2 separate regions of the Homo sapiens genome follow, and region 1 is linked to region 2. Evidence: fine-mapped expression QTL. Tissue or cell type: whole blood. Region 2 holds a variant in brackets; the other region holds the start of a gene. All regions are shown on one strand. Distances are between the middles of the regions.

Region 1 (2,500 bases), 89 kb after region 2:
ACAATTGCCTTGAGTGGCTCCATCTAATTCCCTCCCATCTAATTGGGAATTAGCTTCTCCTGCAGACACAGATGGCTGACCCAAGTGAAGGGTAGTAACCAGTATAAACAAAAGCCTGAATCATTTTCCTGCTGTCGTTTAAATGAGGTGCTATTTATTGGCAAAAGTTCTTTCATGCTCAGGGTTTTTTGTGTTGTGTTGCTTTGTTCTGTACGTTCATCTTCTTTTGAAATGAACCCCTCCAGGACAGGCGCAGTGGCTCAGCCTGTAATCCCAGCACTTTGGGAGACCGAGGCGGGCAGATCACTTGAGGTCAGGAGTCCGAGGCCAGCCTGGCCAACATGGTGAAACCCCATCTTTACTAAAAATACAAAAATTAGCCGGTGTGGTGGCGGGCGCCTGTAATCCCAGCTACTCGGGAGGCTGAGGCAGGAGAATCGCTTGAACCTGGGAGGTGGAGGTTGCAGTGAGCCGAGATCGGGTCACTGCACTCCAGCCTGGGCGACAGAGCGAGACTCCGTCTCAAAAAAAAAAAAAGAAATGAACCCCTCCCAATTATAAATAGAGAAAAAAAAAATCCCTCCAAGTTTGGGTGCCTGTCTCTATAAAGTTTGGGAGTAAACTTTACAGGCTGATAGAACTCTTATCTGCCACCTACCCCTCTTGATAAGTGCCAGATTTCTTCAATTTGATAATTGAAACGGTATCTTTTTTCACACAGGATACTGGGGATAATGATTAGGCTCCTGAGCTGTGGAGACAAGGTTGCTTGAAAGAAACCCAGCTTCACCACTGAGACTGTGTGGTTCTGTGCCTCAGTTTCCTCAATAGTAACTGGGAATAAAAACTACCTAATTCAAAGGGCTGTTGGGACACTGGATGCTGCATAAGGTGATTAAAGCACAGCGCCTGGCACACATTAAACCCCCAATGGTTATCGTCACTATTATTTGTTACCTTTGAGGGTCCTGCCACCTATAAGGACTCTCTCTATATATTTCTAAATTAGGAAAAACATTCAGATGCAGCTGGAGAGATGGGAGAAGCAGCCTATAAAGTTTGGTCCAAGTTGCCACCAACCCAGGGCAGCAGCATGGGGCCTCCAGGAGAGTCTGCGGAGGTGGCCACGCCACGACCCTGCCTGGACCCCAGACTCCAGCCGGGAGCTGTGACCTCGGACGCCCTTCCTACTCACGTTGCGGTTGAAGCTGTTGCCCGGCAGCAGAGGCAGGGCCATGGCGCTCAGTGTCCGAAAATCCAGGGTCCCAGAAGAGAGGGCCCGGCAGGCAGCGGCGCCTCCCGGCCGTGTTGTTTGGCCCCCACGTTGCCTGGAGACGGGAAGCGGCGTCACGGAGGGAGGAGGGGCGGGGGGTTGGCGAGAAGGATCGTGGGGGGCGGGGGACACCTCCGCGGCGCGTACCTCCTCCCCAGCCCCAGTTCCCCTCCACCCGCTTCATCCCCGCACACACTCAGCCAGGTCCTGGTCTCCTGAGGAGTCTTCTCTCTGCACACGCAGTGTGCACACACAAAGATTGACTGTTCCCTGCCCCCGCCGCTTTCTGGTTTAACCCCCTTATAGAACTCAAAGCCTTTCTTGTACTTTCTTGCTTTTCCAATTCTTGTCGCCAACAGTTTTTTGCTATGTGGTTCAAACACACAGCAAAGTACAGAAAGTAATATGACGCCCGTGTGCTCACTGAGATGTTACACAAGTCGATATTTTCCTATGTTGCATAGACATCAGCTTTTATTTTGTAATTAAAACGTTCAAGATGAATCTAAAGCCACATATACCCTGACGAAAACGCGTTGTAATGGTAACCACCGCCTTCAGTTTTTCTTCTGGATATTTTTATATTTGTTGTTTGTTTGTTTGTTTGTTGTTTTAAGACAAGGTCTCACTATGTTGCCCAGGCCGATCTCGAACTCCTGGGCTCAAGCAGCCCTCCCGCCTCTGCCTCCCAAAGTGCTGGGATTACAGGTATGAGCCACCGTGTCCGGCCCATTTTTGTATTTGAACTAAACGTTTGTAAGGCCCAATCAGGGGTGGCCGGGGCGGAGTCAGGTGTCACAAATCGCAACCCCTGTCACTCCATCGTTCACCCCAAGATAGCCGGGCCAGGAACCTCCTCTCCCGACACCTACGTCTAATCCCTCCCTGAAGCCCTAAAGGTTGGACTCGATGCTCTCTCTCAGTCACCACCTCGTCTATTTCAGCTGCGATCCCATTGTTTCTTGCCTGGTTTTCTTCTTTAAAAAGAAAAACAAACACACACAAAAAACTAACTGATCTTGCCTCCAGAGCCGTCGTTTTTATAATTCATGGTGCAGCTGTTACTCTTCTGCTTCAATAATCTAGCCTTCCCGCCGCCTTCAGAAGGTGGTGAAACTCCTTATAGCCTGGTCTGAGGAGCTTTTGTCAGAGGGCACCTACCAATGCCCTCCATCCCTTTCTTTGCCCCCTCCTCCATCTACTCCAGCTCTGAGAAACCACTGGCAG
Region 2 (2,844 bases):
AGCAAGCTAAGACCGATGGCTTGAAATTCTCGCTGCCAGCACAGCAGTCTGAAGTCGATCTGGGACGCTGGAGCTTGGTGGGGGGAGGGGCGTCCCCCATTACTGAGGCTTGTGTAGGCGGTTTTCCCCTCACAGTGTAAACAAAGCTGCCAGGAAGTTGTAACTGGGCGGAGTCCACCACAGCTCAGCAATGATTTTGTAGCCAGACTACCTCTCTAGATTCCTCCTCTCTGGGTAAGGCATCTATGAAAGAAAGGCAGCAGCCCCAGTCACAGGCTTATAGATAAAACTCCCATCTTCCTGGGACACAGAACATGGGGGAAGGGGTGGCTGTGGGCACAGCTTCAGCAGACTTAAACGTTCCTCCTGCCAGCTCTAAAGAGAGCAGCAGACCTCCCAGCACAGTGCTCGAGCTCTGCTAAAGGACAGATTGCCTCCTCAAGTGTGTCCCTGACCCCTGTGCCTCCTGCTAGGAGACACCTCCCAGCAGGGGTTGACACCTCTTAAAGGAGACCTCCGACTGGCATCTGGAGGGTGCCCCTCTGGGACGAAGCTTCCAGAGGAAGGAACAGGTAGCAATCTTTGCTGTTCTGCAGCCTCCACTGGTGATACCAAGGCAAACAAGGTCTGGATTGGACTTCCAGGAAACTCCAGCAGACCTGCAGCAGAGAAGCCTGACTATTAGAAGGAAAACTAACAAACAGAAAGGAATAGCATCAACATCAACAAAAAGGATGTCCAAATGAAAACTCCATCCGAAGGTCAACAACATCAAAGACCAAAGGTAGATAAATCCACAAAGATGAAGAAAAACCAGCACAAAAAGGCTGAAAATTCCAAAAAACCAGAACACCTCTTCTCCTCCGAAGGATCACAACTCCTCGCCAGCAAGAGAACAAAACTGGACGGAGAATGAGTTTGATGAATTGACAGAAGTAGGCTTCAGAAGGTGGGTAATAACTAACTCCTCTGAGCTAAAGGAGCATGTTTTAACCCAATGCAAGGAAGCTAAGAACCTTGAAAAAAGGTTAGAGGAATTGCTAACTAGAATAACCAGTTTAGAGAAGAACATAAATGACCTGATGGAGCTGAAAAACACAGCACGAGAGCTTTGTGAAGCATACACAAGTATCAATAGCTGAATCGATTAAGCAGAAGAAAGGATATCAGAGATGGAAGATCAACTTAATGAAATAAAGCGTGAAGACAAGATTAGAGAAGAAAGAATGAAAAGGAACAAACAAAGCCTCCAAGAAATACGGGACTATGTGAAAAGACCAAACGTACGTTTGATTGGTGTACCTGAAAGTGATAGGGAGAATGGAACCAAGTTGGAAAACACACTTCAGCATATTATCCAGGAGAACTTCCCCAACCTAGCAAGACAGGCCAACATTCAAATT[T/C]AGGAAATACAGAGGAAACCACAAAGATACTTCTCAAGAAGAGCAACCCCAAGACACATAATTGTCAGATTCACCAAGGTTGAAATGAAGGAAAAAGTGTCAAGGGCAGCCAGAGAGAAAGGTCGGGTTACCCACAAAGGGAAGCCCATCAGACTAACAGGAGACCTCTCTGCAGAAACCCTACAAGCCACAAGAGAGTGGGGGCCAATATTCAACATCCTTAAAGAAAAGAATTTTCAACCCAGAATTTCATATCCAGCCAAACTAAGCTTCACAAGCAAGGGGGAAATAAAATCCTTTACAGATAAGCAAATGCTGAAAGATTTTGTCATCACCAGGCCTGCCTTACAAGAGCTCCTGAAGGAAGCACTAAATGTGGAAAGGAAAAATCAGTACCAGCTGCTGCAAAAACATACCAAATTATAAAGACCATTGATGCTATGAAGAAACTGCATCAATTAATGGGCAAAATAATCAGCTAGCATCATAATGACAGGATCAAATTCACACATAACAATATTAACCTTAAATGTAAACAGGCTAAATGTCCCAATTAAAAGACACAGACTGGCAAATTGGATAAAGGGTCAAGACACATCAGTGTGCTGTATTCAGGAGACCCATCTCACATGCAAAGACACACATAAGCTCAAAATAAAGGGAGGGAGGAATATTTACCAAAAAAATGGAAAGCAAAAAAAAGCAGGGGTTTCTATCCTAGTCTCTGATAAAACAGACTTTAAACCAACAAAGATCAAAAAAGACAAAGAAGGGCATTTCATAATGGTAAAGAGATCAATGCAACAAGAAGAGCCAACTATACTAAATATATATGCACCCAATACAGGAGCACCCAGATTCATAAAGCAAGTCCTTAGAGACCTACAGAGAGATTTAGACTCCCACACAATAATAATGAAAGACTTTAACACCCCACTGTCAATATTAGACAGATCAACGAGACAGAAAATTAACAAGGATATTCAGGACTTGAACTCAGCTCTGGACCAAGTGGACCTAATAGACATCTACAGAACTCTCCACCCCAAATCAACAGAGTATACATTCTTCTCAGCACCACATCACATTTATTCTAAAGTTGACCACATAATGGGAAGTAAAACACTCCTCAGCAAATGCAAAAGAACGGAAATCATAACAAACAGTCTCTCAGACCACAGAGCAATCAACTTAGAACTCAGGATTAAGAAACTCACTCAAAACCGCACAATTGCATGCAAACTGAACAACCTGCTCCTGAATGACTACTGGGTAAATAACAAAATTAAGGCAGAAATAAATAAGTTCTTTGAAACAAATGACAACAAAGACACAACATACCAGAATCTCTGGGACACAACTAAAGCAGTGTTTAGAGGCAAATTTATATATTTAGTGCTTATAAGCACTAAATGCCCACAGGAGAAAGTGAGAAAGATCT

The links. PIP is the estimated chance that this variant, and not a neighbour inherited with it, causes the effect.
Region 1: it holds the start of EFHC2, and the variant in region 2 is fine-mapped to the expression of EFHC2 in whole blood (TOPMed, PIP above 0.99).

Annotation. Positions count from the first base shown.
Region 1 is chrX:44,342,352-44,344,851 of GRCh38, forward strand. EFHC2 (EF-hand domain containing 2) reads right to left here and starts at 1,321. Exons shown (of 15, transcript NM_025184.4): 1 at 1,196-1,321. The coding sequence starts at 1,237.
Region 2 is chrX:44,253,354-44,256,197 of GRCh38, forward strand. All of the region lies in intron 4 of EFHC2 (EF-hand domain containing 2), which reads right to left. Among named protein-coding and RNA genes, the nearest start is that of EFHC2, 89 kb to the right of the region's middle. RefSeq lists enhancers at 1-112, 113-965. The variant T/C (reference allele first, on the strand shown) is at 1,404.